2 separate regions of the Homo sapiens genome follow, and region 1 is linked to region 2. Evidence: fine-mapped expression QTL. A gene starts in region 2. The other region holds a variant in brackets. All regions are shown on one strand. Distances are between the middles of the regions. Region 1 overlaps ZACN (zinc activated ion channel). Region 2 holds the start of EXOC7 (exocyst complex component 7).

Region 1 (5,364 bases), 20 kb before region 2:
ACTGCGCCCCCCACTCGAGTGGCAGCCCATCTCTGTGCTCAGCGGTAGCCTCAGGGCCCCTCTCTAGGGTGACAGACTCAAACATTCGCAGCAGCTCTGCAATCCCAGAGGTCCGAGCACATCAGTCTTCTGTCCTCCCCAGAGCAACTGCCCTCCACAGCCATGGCGACTGCAGTGGCTCGGCCCCTTGCAGCAAGGCCAGAGGCTCAGGTTGCCATGGCCTCACTCCTGGAAACCACCTGAAGGTGCAGCCACCCTGTATAAACCCATCAGGTGACATCTAACTTGGCAGAGAAGTCCTACCCTTCCCTCCATGAGAGACCACAGCGGTAGCCCTGGGGATCCTGCTTCAGCTGTGAGATGATAGACTGACGAGCCTGTGACCACTTCTCCCTCCATCATGAAGTGGTGCAAAGTACATTTATTTTTACAATGAAAGCTCATCTATGAATCTGATAAAGGCCTTCCTTCAACTGGAGACAATTTGGGATGTTGCAAAACAAGGTTTGGGAAGCCCTTCTATGGATCGGTTTTGTGTCCAAGTCTGTCCCTGCCAAAAGCCATCAAAAGTCTCCATCACCCCTGGGCTCCAGTCTGCTACCCCCAGACTTGGCAGCTGGGATCTCTCCTTCCTGGTTCATAGTTCTCATTCCCACCCCTCAGCGATGGAGTTAGAGTTCCAGGCCCACGTGGTGAACGAGATTGTGAGTGTCAAGAGGGAATACGTAGTTTATGATCTGAAGACCCAAGTCCCACCCCAGCAGCTGGTGCCCTGCTTCCAGGTGACGGTGAGTCAAGTCGGGAGGAGGCCGACAGAGGGCTGCTGGAGGCGGGTGGGAGTGAGGATGCACGGCCAGAGGCCAGGCCCCATGCCCCCGATGCCCACCTCCTTCCCCCCCGCCGGGAAGGCCCTGACTTTTCCCCTTCCAGCTGAGGCTGAAGAACACGGCGCTCAAGTCCATCATCGCTCTCTTGGTGCCTGCAGAGGCACTGCTGTTGGCTGACGTGTGCGGGGGGTTGCTGCCCCTCCGGGCCATTGAGCGCATAGGCTACAAGGTGACATTGCTGCTGAGTTACCTCGTCCTCCACTCCTCCCTGGTGCAGGCCCTGCCCAGCTCCTCCTCCTGCAACCCACTGCTCAGTAAGCCCTGCTCCCTTACCCAGTCTGCCCTGTTTCTCCCCGGTCACCCACTGGTGCTCAGCTCGCTGGGCACCAGAGACACAGGGACTGGCCCCTGAGCATCTCCCTGTGCCCTGCCTCCCCCAGTTTACTACTTCACCATCCTGCTGCTGCTGCTCTTCCTCAGCACCATAGAGACTGTGCTGCTGGCTGGGCTGCTGGCCCGGGGCAACCTTGGGGCCAAGAGCGGCCCCAGCCCAGCCCCGAGAGGGGAACAGCGAGAGCACGGCAACCCAGGGCCTCATCCTGCTGAAGGTGGGCAGGGGCTGGGGGGTAAGGAATGAGGCCTAGGTGCACACCTAGGGCTGGGGTGAGGGCACGGAGGTCCAGGTGTGGGTAGAGGCCCCTTGCATCCACCCTGCTGGCTCTCCTGTCCCTGGTCTCCACCATGTCCTCCTCCCTTAGAAGAAACAGGTCTGGGGCAGGGAGCAAGCTGAGCCTCCCTGAAGTCCCAGGTGACCTCAATCCCCTGATAACCCATGCCTTGCACAGCCTAAGAGGGTGTTTCTTCAACTGAAGATGGCCTGAAATGGGCCAGACCCAAATTTTCATCAGCTGAGAATCTAAGAAAGGAAGCGATACAGGCTGATGACCCCTGGGGTTCGCTCTTCCGCTCATGTTGAGGGGACCTTGAAGAACAGCTCCTTTCCCTGTATCTCTCCCCACAGAGCCCTCCAGAGGAGTAAAGGGGTCACAGAGAAGCTGGCCTGAGACTGCTGACCGCATCTTCTTCCTCGTGTATGTGGTTGGGGTGCTGTGCACCCAATTCGTCTTTGCAGGAATCTGGATGTGGGCAGCGTGCAAGTCTGACGCAGCCCCTGGAGAGGCTGCACCCCATGGCAGGCGGCCTAGACTGTAAAGGGGCAGGGCCTGGGCTGCACACCTTAGGATGAAGTTTGCTTTCCCATGGCTGGGGGCGGGCCATGACAGGGCCTCTGGATTAAGCCACCCTGAGCTCTCCCTCCGCTAGCACACAAGCACAGAGCGTGAAATAAACCCATCTCCAGTGCAAGTGTGCCTCAAGGGTCAGTCTTCAATCTCGTCCTAAATAGGTGGGGCCCTATTTTTTGCTTCCAACCCCCATTTTGCTCCTTAACTTTTCCCCATTGTCCCTGTCTCCCAGCCCACAGGCAGGCAGCCTAATTGCTCCTTCTGCAACCACGACTGCCTGGCCCTGGGCCAAGAGGCACTGAGGCTGGGGGCCAGAGACAGGGGCCTGAGGAAGGCTGTAGAGGGTGGGGCGGAACTCCTCCTCCGAACGCCTCCTGCAGTGTGCTGGACTCTAGGGAAAATGGCCAGTGAGCCTGCCTCCCCCAGCCACCTAGGGGACTCCTGGGAGGGAAAGGTCCCAGACCTCAGGCCTGTGGGCGGGCGGGAATGTGTTTTAAGAGAGGGGGTCAGTCCCGACTGCCTTTCCTCCAGGAGCTCTGGCTGCTTCTCTGAGCCCTGCCACATCTCTGGGCTGTAGGGGAGTTCTCTGTCCCCACCTCTGACCTAGGCTGGAGGGAGGGCCCTTCTGCCCTGCTGCTCTTGGTACACATGGAGCAGCAGTGGGCACAGGCCTCTGTCTTCCTTCTCTCTTTTCCTGTTTCAGAAGCCATCAGGGTCATAAAAGCCAAGGTGTGGAGGGACCCCAGGCTTCCGGGAGAGTGCTGGTTCGGCTGGGAACACGGGCTGTGGGGAAAAAGCAGGAGCCAGGACTAGGGGGCTCAGGGACACAGCTCCCGGAGGCGTGGAGACAGGTCTCTGTCCCAGAGGACTTCAAGCTCACCCAGCCCAGAGGCAAGCTAACACTGGTTTATCTGTCCAATGACACGCCAGTCTGGTGGAACCAGGCAGGGCTAGCAGCAGGCTCAGGCAGAGGTGTCGAAAAGGCGATCGATCATGTCGCCCACCTGCTCCACCCCGTACTTGATGTACTTCTCCGGGTTCTTGGTGAAGGGCACGCTGCCAAACCTGAGG[A/G]GGCACTGTGGTCAGGGGACAGGGAGGGCCGACCCCTCCCCAGCTCCACCCTCAGCCTAAGGCACTCCTGATAGTCTTGGAAGGGGTGGCCCTGAGCGATTCCCTGTCTGGCCCCGCCCCAAAGCCCAGGTCGCTGGATCTGCTGCCTAAATCCACCACCCTTCTCCTTTTTCCCTTGAGGAAGAGGAGCTTGAAGAGGCCCACTGGGGCTGTGGGCAGCACAGGCTGGGAGGGGAATGGAGGCCTCACTTCTGTAGAAAGGCCCCGTAGGTCTCCTTGACAATGGTCTTCTGGGCCTGGCGAATCCTGTCCCTCTGCTCTGTGTCTGGAATAGCCCAGGCCTTCTGGATTTTGCACAGTTCTTCGAGGCCATCATTGAAGCCCTGGCCACCAAAAAGGTGAAAAAGGAAGGCACCCAGAGACAAACATTTTGGGTCTGTGTTGCCTCAACAGCAGCAGCAAGCAGTGGAGGGGAGAGGACCCCGACTCACCTTAAAACGCTCCTTGATAATCTGCCGCTCCTTGTCCCGGAGCTGGGAAGCCAGGAGAGATAGCAGAGAAAGCTCACTTCAGAGCAGAGCAGCCTTCCCCCACTCTTCCCCAAACACCCTTGGTCTGGGCCTGTCTCCTGTGTCCTGATGGCCACATGCATCCTTTGCTCTCTGATCCCAGAGGGATGCTTGTCCACTTTTTCCCAGAGACACGACAAAAAGTATCCCGTCTGCCAGACACCCCTTCCCAGCCCAGGTCTTGAGCCCACCTTGACTCCCGGCTGGAACACAGGTAGATTCTTCTCTGCGATGTAATCAGTCACCTTTAACCAGCTGCCAGACAGAAAGAGAAGCATGAGGGCAGAGGGTGGCCTGCCTCAGTGGCCTGGCTTGTTTCGTTTGCTAAATCTCTGGATCTACTTGGTGGGTGGTGGTAGGAAGGGATGTGGGTCACAACTAAGCAAACAACAGGTTTTCTTCCTGGGAAGAGAAAATCTTTAAACTGGTCACTTTTTGAGATAACATTAGGAAACACTTGAGTGTTCAATAAATTGGACAAATACTGTCAACTATACTTCACATCAATATCGTGGCAAACTAAGATGGAGAAACAGATGAGAAAGAAAGGAGTGGAGGGCAGATAAATGAGAAGGAAGAGGTAGACACATTCAAAGGGAAGAAACAAAGCCAGGAAGAAAGAGGACCAGAGAAGCAGCGGGATCCTCACAGAGCAAGGCTCAGCCACGTTCAAGTGCTCTCGCGACCTTGCTCTTCTCCTAGGTAAACATTACCCACGTCTCTGAGAGCCAGCTCTTCAATCATTCTTAGCCTTGACACTTGGCAGACTCCCCTCTAAAGTGGCCATAGTGGGCCCCTAGGAGCAGGTAGTGGTAGAGGAGGGGGCTTCTCTCTCCACCCCGTGAGTTTGATTAGAAACCAAGTGGAGGATTAGGGTCCAGAGGACAGGAGTTCCCCGTGACCGACTCTGTGTCCTGAGGTGCTGAGAAGGAAGAGTGCGTGGTGGCACAGGGGCCCATGCAGGAGCAGGGCGGGCCCAGCCTCTCACCTGCGCTGGTAGGTCTGGATCTGCTGCTCAATGTGCTCCCGGTAGGAGCGCTCAGCAGTCTTCTGTGTCACTGCCACCAGCTGGATCAGTTCAGACCTGGGTCGGGGTAGGGGACAGAGGAGAGGAGGACAGGATTGGCTCCTCAGGCCCAAAGGCTGCGGCAATGCCGGGAGGGCCTCCCATTGCACCCCAAACTCCACAAGCTCTATGGCATCCCACCTTCCGGGTCCTGGGGTGGAGGAGACTGAAGCACCCCCTCCCCTCTCGTCCACAAGAGAAGGAGCCCAGGGGGGCAGGGGCTGGCACAGCTGCACAGCCGAGGGGAAGGTGAGAGCCGCAGACTCACTCCCGCAGGCCACTTACTTCTCCAGGGACTTGAGGATGTAATTGTAGTTGTTGTGCAGGAAGATGGCGCTCAGAGCTGGGTCCTCGTACACCTTGGACTTGCTCAGCAAGTTCAACTGCAGGTTGCCCAGCACTTTACCTGCACAGGGAAAAATGGGGCCACACCCACCATGGCAGTCTGACCCAAACGACCCCACCCCAGGACCCGCGAACGCGCTCCTATCCATCGCTCCTCGTCCTGCCTCAGGAGGCCTTAGCCCAACTCCCCTCAGCCTCTGAACTAGAGGTCAGGTTGTGGTTCCAAAGATCAGATGGCACTT
Region 2 (5,364 bases):
GACCTGGGAGGCAGAGGTTGCAGTGAGCTGAGCACTGTACTCCAGCTTGGGTGACAGAGCAAGACTCTGTCTCAGGAAAAAACAACAACAACAACAACAACAACAACAAATCAAATGTTAAGTTTATATTTTATATGTAATTTATAATTTAATTTTTATAATACATTAACAAGTTTTATAATAAAGAATTTTTAATAATAAAAAATGTGCAATTCTTGAAGCAGAGATCCTAATGCCTATAGGATGTACTGTGCTATATCCTTCTGTGTATTCTACTGCATACATCCTCAAGCTGGCTCCATGTCCCTCATGAGACCAGGGCAGAGACTGATATCCCCAAGCTTCTCACGTTATTCTGCGGACCCCTTACCACTTTGTTGAGTTCCGGGCTGTCTGGGCTGTTGTCCTGGAAATACTCCACTGCCTTCTGAATCTTGGCCATGCTTCCCAGGTACTCTTCCAGCCTACCTGTGGGGCTGGGAAAGAAAAGAGCCAGGTCAGGCTGGGGCATGGGGGATGAAGAAGGACTAAGGACACAGTATTTGGGAAAAAGAAAATTAATACAGGGGACTCCAGGCTCAAATATATTCTATCCCCCCACTGCCTTTTAAGGCCTAGGGCTTAAAAGGCGTCTCACTGTGTTGTCCAGACTGGTCTTGAACTCCTAGTCTCAAGCGATCCTCCCACCTCAGCCTCCCAAATTGTTGGGATTACAGACCAACCCTCCTGTTGGCCCAGGAGGCATTAGGAATTGACCCTCTGGGCCTCACTCACTCACCCCTCTCTGATGATCTTCTCAGTGTCACTGGCCACATGGTAGTAGCTGATGACATGGTCCAGGCAGGACAGCGTCTTCTCAACATTCTCCTGCAGCCGCTGCAGATTCTCCGTCTGCTTGTGCACAGGGATGATGGAGTTCTCCAGCTTCATAAGGCGGCTCTCAAAGGATGATAAGATAGACACCTGCGGGAGGGAAGCCTCTTGATCTTGGGACTCACAGTGGTCCCAGCACTGCTTCTACACACCCACCTTCGGCATTTCCTGCCTTTTCTCTGGTTTTCTAGACAATAAACTCCACAAGCGAAGGAACAGGGTGTACCTGTTCCCCACTGTATCTTCAGCACCTATCATGTGCCTGGCATATAGTAGGTGGTCTAAGACAAATTGGTTGAAATTTTATTTGAAGGCAAACCAAGCATCAAATTAATTCTTCTTAAAATAATCAGCCCAAGATGGCTTCCCTTCCACCCTTTGAAGCCAAATCTCAACTTCTGTTCTCTCTGAAGCATTCCTAAACCGGACTGGAAGTAGTTTCATACAGAGTAGCCTCAAATGCATTGCTGTATCTTCAAAACCCTCTCTAAGGATGAAACTCATTGAATAAGGACTAGAGGCTGGGCGTGATGGTTCATGCCTGTAATACCCAGAATTTGGGAGGCTGAGGCGGGAGGTTAGCTTGAGACTAGGAGTTCAAGACAAGCCTGGACAACACAGTGAGACCCTGTCTACACACACAGACACACACACACACACACACACACACACACACACACACAATTAGCAAGGCGTGGTGGTGTGTGCCTACAGTCCCAGCTGCTAGGAGGCCGAGGCAGGAGGACTGCCTGAGCCCAGGAGTTAGAGACTGCAGTGAGCTACAGTCATGCCACTGCACTCTAGCCTGCACAACACAGCCAGACTCTGCCTCTAAAAAAAAAAATTTAAAAATTAAAATTTTTAGAAAAGGACTAGGACTTTATTATTGTGTGACTAAATGCAAATACAAGTTTGTATTTACTCACTTTGTGCTTTTCCAGTCTCCCCTAGGAATAAAGAAGGAAACTCACTTATTGAGCACCTATTGTATACCAGGCACTGTGCAAGATGCAGTCGCATGCATTAGCGCATATGACCTTCACAGACACACTGGGAGGCTGGCACAGTCTCTGTTTTAGCAGATGAATTCGCTGACACCAGTTACCTATCAGGAGCCGCACATTTAAGCAGAAGGGCAAGGACTAGATCCCAGATCTGCCTGACTTTAGAGCTCTTTCTTTCCCTAAAGTCCTCTGGAGTGAAGGCTGAGTCTTCTCTGCCCTCAGGAATCTCAAAGTGCCAACCTCCTGGGCAGAGAGTCCACTGACAATGACATATGCCCAGTACCTAGCCCAACTGGTCAGACTCACTGAGTGTTTGCAGAAGGAGAGAAGGAAGAATGGCGAGCTTAGACAGAAAGCAGCAAGTCCAGGCCAGTGGGAAGTGCAGCCTCCTCAGTGAGGGTACGGAACATGGGGAGGGGGCTAGGCAGGAGAGATGCCAAACTGTTGCTAGATAAACCCACACACTGCCTCCGTCGCTGCCCATTCCAGAACTCCAGGCCGCAGGAACCGGAACCGCCAGGTCGCAAGGCTCTCCCCCAGGGTCCGGAGGCCTGCCCTCTCCCCCAGCTGCGGGGAGACTCACCATGTTCTTAGTGAGCTGGTCGCTCTTCTCCAGGCTGTCTCGGATGAAGGACAGAGTCTCCTCCTCCTGGGGGCAGGCAAGGGGAGGACATCACCAGAAACCAGAAGCTAAAGGAGACCACTGCGTCCCAACCCCACGGCCTAGCCCCCAACCCCATCTCCTCGCTGGGTGCGCTCCCTCCCACCCCTGCCTCCTCCATGAGTAGACAATCAGGCCCCGCTGTTGGCCCCTTTCCCTCACCTCCTCCCCAGCCTCCCCAGGCCCACGCCCACCTGCTTCAGCTTGTCCTCAATCTCCCGCCGTCGAGCGGATGCCTCCTGTGGGGGAATCATCGCTCTGAACCCCGCGGCTCCCACTCCCCAGTATCTTTCCTCCGCGGGCCCACCGGGCCCCCGTCCCCGTCACACCCACTTCCGCTCTTGGTCCCGCCCCGGGACGCCTGGGCGGAGCCATGTTGGGAATCGCAGGCTGAAGTGCGCCTGCGCGGAGCCCAAGAACGGACCGACGGCCATTTTGAGCGTGGCTGGGAAGAGAAGTGTATTCGGATGCTGCAAGGGACCTCGACGCGGGTTCCTTGCCTCAGCAGAGGTTTTCGATCGGCCTTATGTCCCGCGGCTGGCAGGACACTTAGAGCTCACTTGCTGTTTTCGTTGAAAGACCGACCCTTTTGATAAAGACTGCTGGGGAAGGCGACGAATTCCTTTCCCCAGGTCGCATTCTATGGGCAGGCACCAAGGCCAATTGCGTTTCCCACAAAGCCCCGCACGGAGCAGGTGACACAGTAGATGCCTAACGTGTGTCCATGTAATGAACCAGGGGCTTGTGTACTTGTTTCCGCCTTCCACCCTGCATTACGCAAAAACGTATCCTGTGGGCTGGCGGGGCTGCTCCGGAGCTCCAGGCCCAGACCCAGCGTCCAACTGCAGCTCCAGGGGACGGGGTGGGGGGCGCCCCTGGATCAACTTCCCTGCGGGGCTGGATGTTGTGGTTGCAGACCCAGCTCCTGCAAAACCTCGAGTTACTCCTTCCTCTAACCCGTCCCTGCCCACCCTGCCTCTGGCCCCCAGCCTTGAGAAAGGACAAGGCCGACCAGCTTGGTTCAGTCCTTCTGTGGCCTCAGTGTCCAGACACCCGGAAGATAGACAAGGAGGCATGTGCTGGTAGATGAGAAGGTTTGGGGCGGGCAGGGGGGACACCAAGCTTTTTTTTTCCTTTCTTTTCTTTTGAGAGAGAGTCTCACTCTGTCGCCCAGGCTGGAGTGCAAGTGGCACGATCTTGGCTCATTGCAGTCTCTGCCTCCCGGGTTCAAGTGATTCTCGTGCCTCAGCGTCCCGAGTAGCTGGGATTACAGGCGGCTGCCAACACGCCCGGCTAATTTTTTTGTATTATTAGTAGAGACAGGGTTTCGCCATGTTGCCCAGGCTAGTCTCGAACTCCTGACCTCAAGTGATCCACCCGCCTTGGCCTTCCAAAGTCCTGAGATTACAGGCGTGAGCCCCTGCTCCCGGCCTAAGGAGAGAAGGAGAGAAGGAAGAACCCAAGCTCTAGGGTTCCCAAGCGCTCACTCCACCCATAGTCACCCGAAGAGGAGGAGGAGGAGGAAGTGGGTGCACAGAGCCTGGAGAGGGATGGGCAGCCTTCCCTCAGGCAAGAGGACAATTTCAATCCTGTTGTAGGTGGGGGAGATAAAAGGCTGATTCCTGTGTCAGGAAATACCCAGGATGATTTCGCTGACATGGTCCTTGTGTAGTCCAAAGGGCTAAGTAGGAGAAAGTTTAAACTGTTAGATGTCACAGAATAGAGTAGCGGGGCTAGTTAGCCGCTGTAGAGAGGGTGTTTTGGGCTCAGGTGGACTACCTTTGAGGGCCTGGTCCAGCATTTAACCTGAGTCTCTCTCTCTCTCTCTTTTTTTTTTCTTGAGACGGAGTCTTGCTGTGTTGCCCAGGCTCGAGTGCAATGGCGTGATCTCGCCTCACTGCAACTTCTGCCTCCCGGGTTCAAGCGATTCTCCTGCCTCAGCCTCTCGAGTAGCTGGGATTACAGGCATGGGCCACCACCCTGGCTAATTTTGTATTTTTAGTAGAGATGGGGTTTCTCCATGTTGGTCAGGCTAGTCTTGAACTCCCAACCTCAGTTGATCCGCCCGCCTCGGCCTCCCAAAGTGCTGGGATTACAGGTGTGAGCCACCGTGCTTGGCCTGAGTCTCTAAACAGTTCCTGGCCCATAGTAGATGCTTAATAAAAATACTGATAATAAATATTTTGCTCCGGCCAGGTGTGGTGGCTCATGCCTGTAATCCCAGCACTTTGGGAGGCCGAGGCGGGTGGATCACGAGGTCAGGAGTTCGAGACCAGCCTGGCCAACATAGTGAAACCCCATCTCTACTAAAAATACAAAAATTAGCTGGGTGTGGTGGTGTGCACCTGTAGTCCCAGCTACTCGGGAGGCTGAGGCAGAATTGCTTGAACCCAGGAGGCAAAGGTTGCGGTGAGCCGAGATGGTGCCATTGCACTCCAGCCTGGGCAACAGAGCAAGACTCCATCTCAAGCAAAAAAAAAATTTTGTTTTTTTTTTGCTCCATAGGTCTTGGGAATCCTTTATGTGCGTGAGGAAGCTAATATTTTCAAATCTGTACAATGTCATTGCATTTTTGTCAATCAGCTGTGTGTGCTTTACTGCATTTCCTTCAGTGTCTGAGTCTAATGGGGTTAGATACCATTAGTACAATACCATGTACTGAGAGTCTTCTGTTTGCCTGTCTCTACTACAAACATTGCCCTTGCTAATGCTCCTCTAATCCTTATCATAAACCTGGGAGTCAGGCCCAGCTGTCGTCTCCCTTGTGCAGACGAGGAAGCTCCGGCTCAGAGAAGTCAGCTGTAGTAAGTCAACACAGCTGGCCAG

The links. PIP is the estimated chance that this variant, and not a neighbour inherited with it, causes the effect.
Region 1: its variant is the best candidate, but not a certain one, in a credible set for the expression of EXOC7 in whole blood (INTERVAL, PIP 0.62).

Annotation. Positions count from the first base shown.
Region 1 is chr17:76,080,615-76,085,978 of GRCh38, forward strand. ZACN (zinc activated ion channel) reads left to right here. Exons shown (of 9, transcript NM_180990.4): 6 at 664-788; 7 at 931-1,141; 8 at 1,268-1,435; 9 at 1,849-2,192. The coding sequence ends at 2,039. EXOC7 (exocyst complex component 7) reads right to left here. Exons shown (of 19, transcript NM_001013839.4): 14 at 5,063-5,183; 15 at 4,700-4,795; 16 at 3,903-3,966; 17 at 3,634-3,675; 18 at 3,392-3,525; 19 at 402-3,136. The coding sequence ends at 3,034. Among named protein-coding and RNA genes, the nearest start is that of ZACN, 4.1 kb to the left of the region's middle. RefSeq lists an enhancer at 1-395 and a silencer at 480-680. The variant A/G (reference allele first, on the strand shown) is at 3,143.
Region 2 is chr17:76,100,901-76,106,264 of GRCh38, forward strand. It overlaps EXOC7 (exocyst complex component 7), which reads right to left and starts at 2,887. Exons shown (of 19, transcript NM_001013839.4): 1 at 2,733-2,887; 2 at 2,461-2,526; 3 at 779-963; 4 at 371-476. The coding sequence starts at 2,792.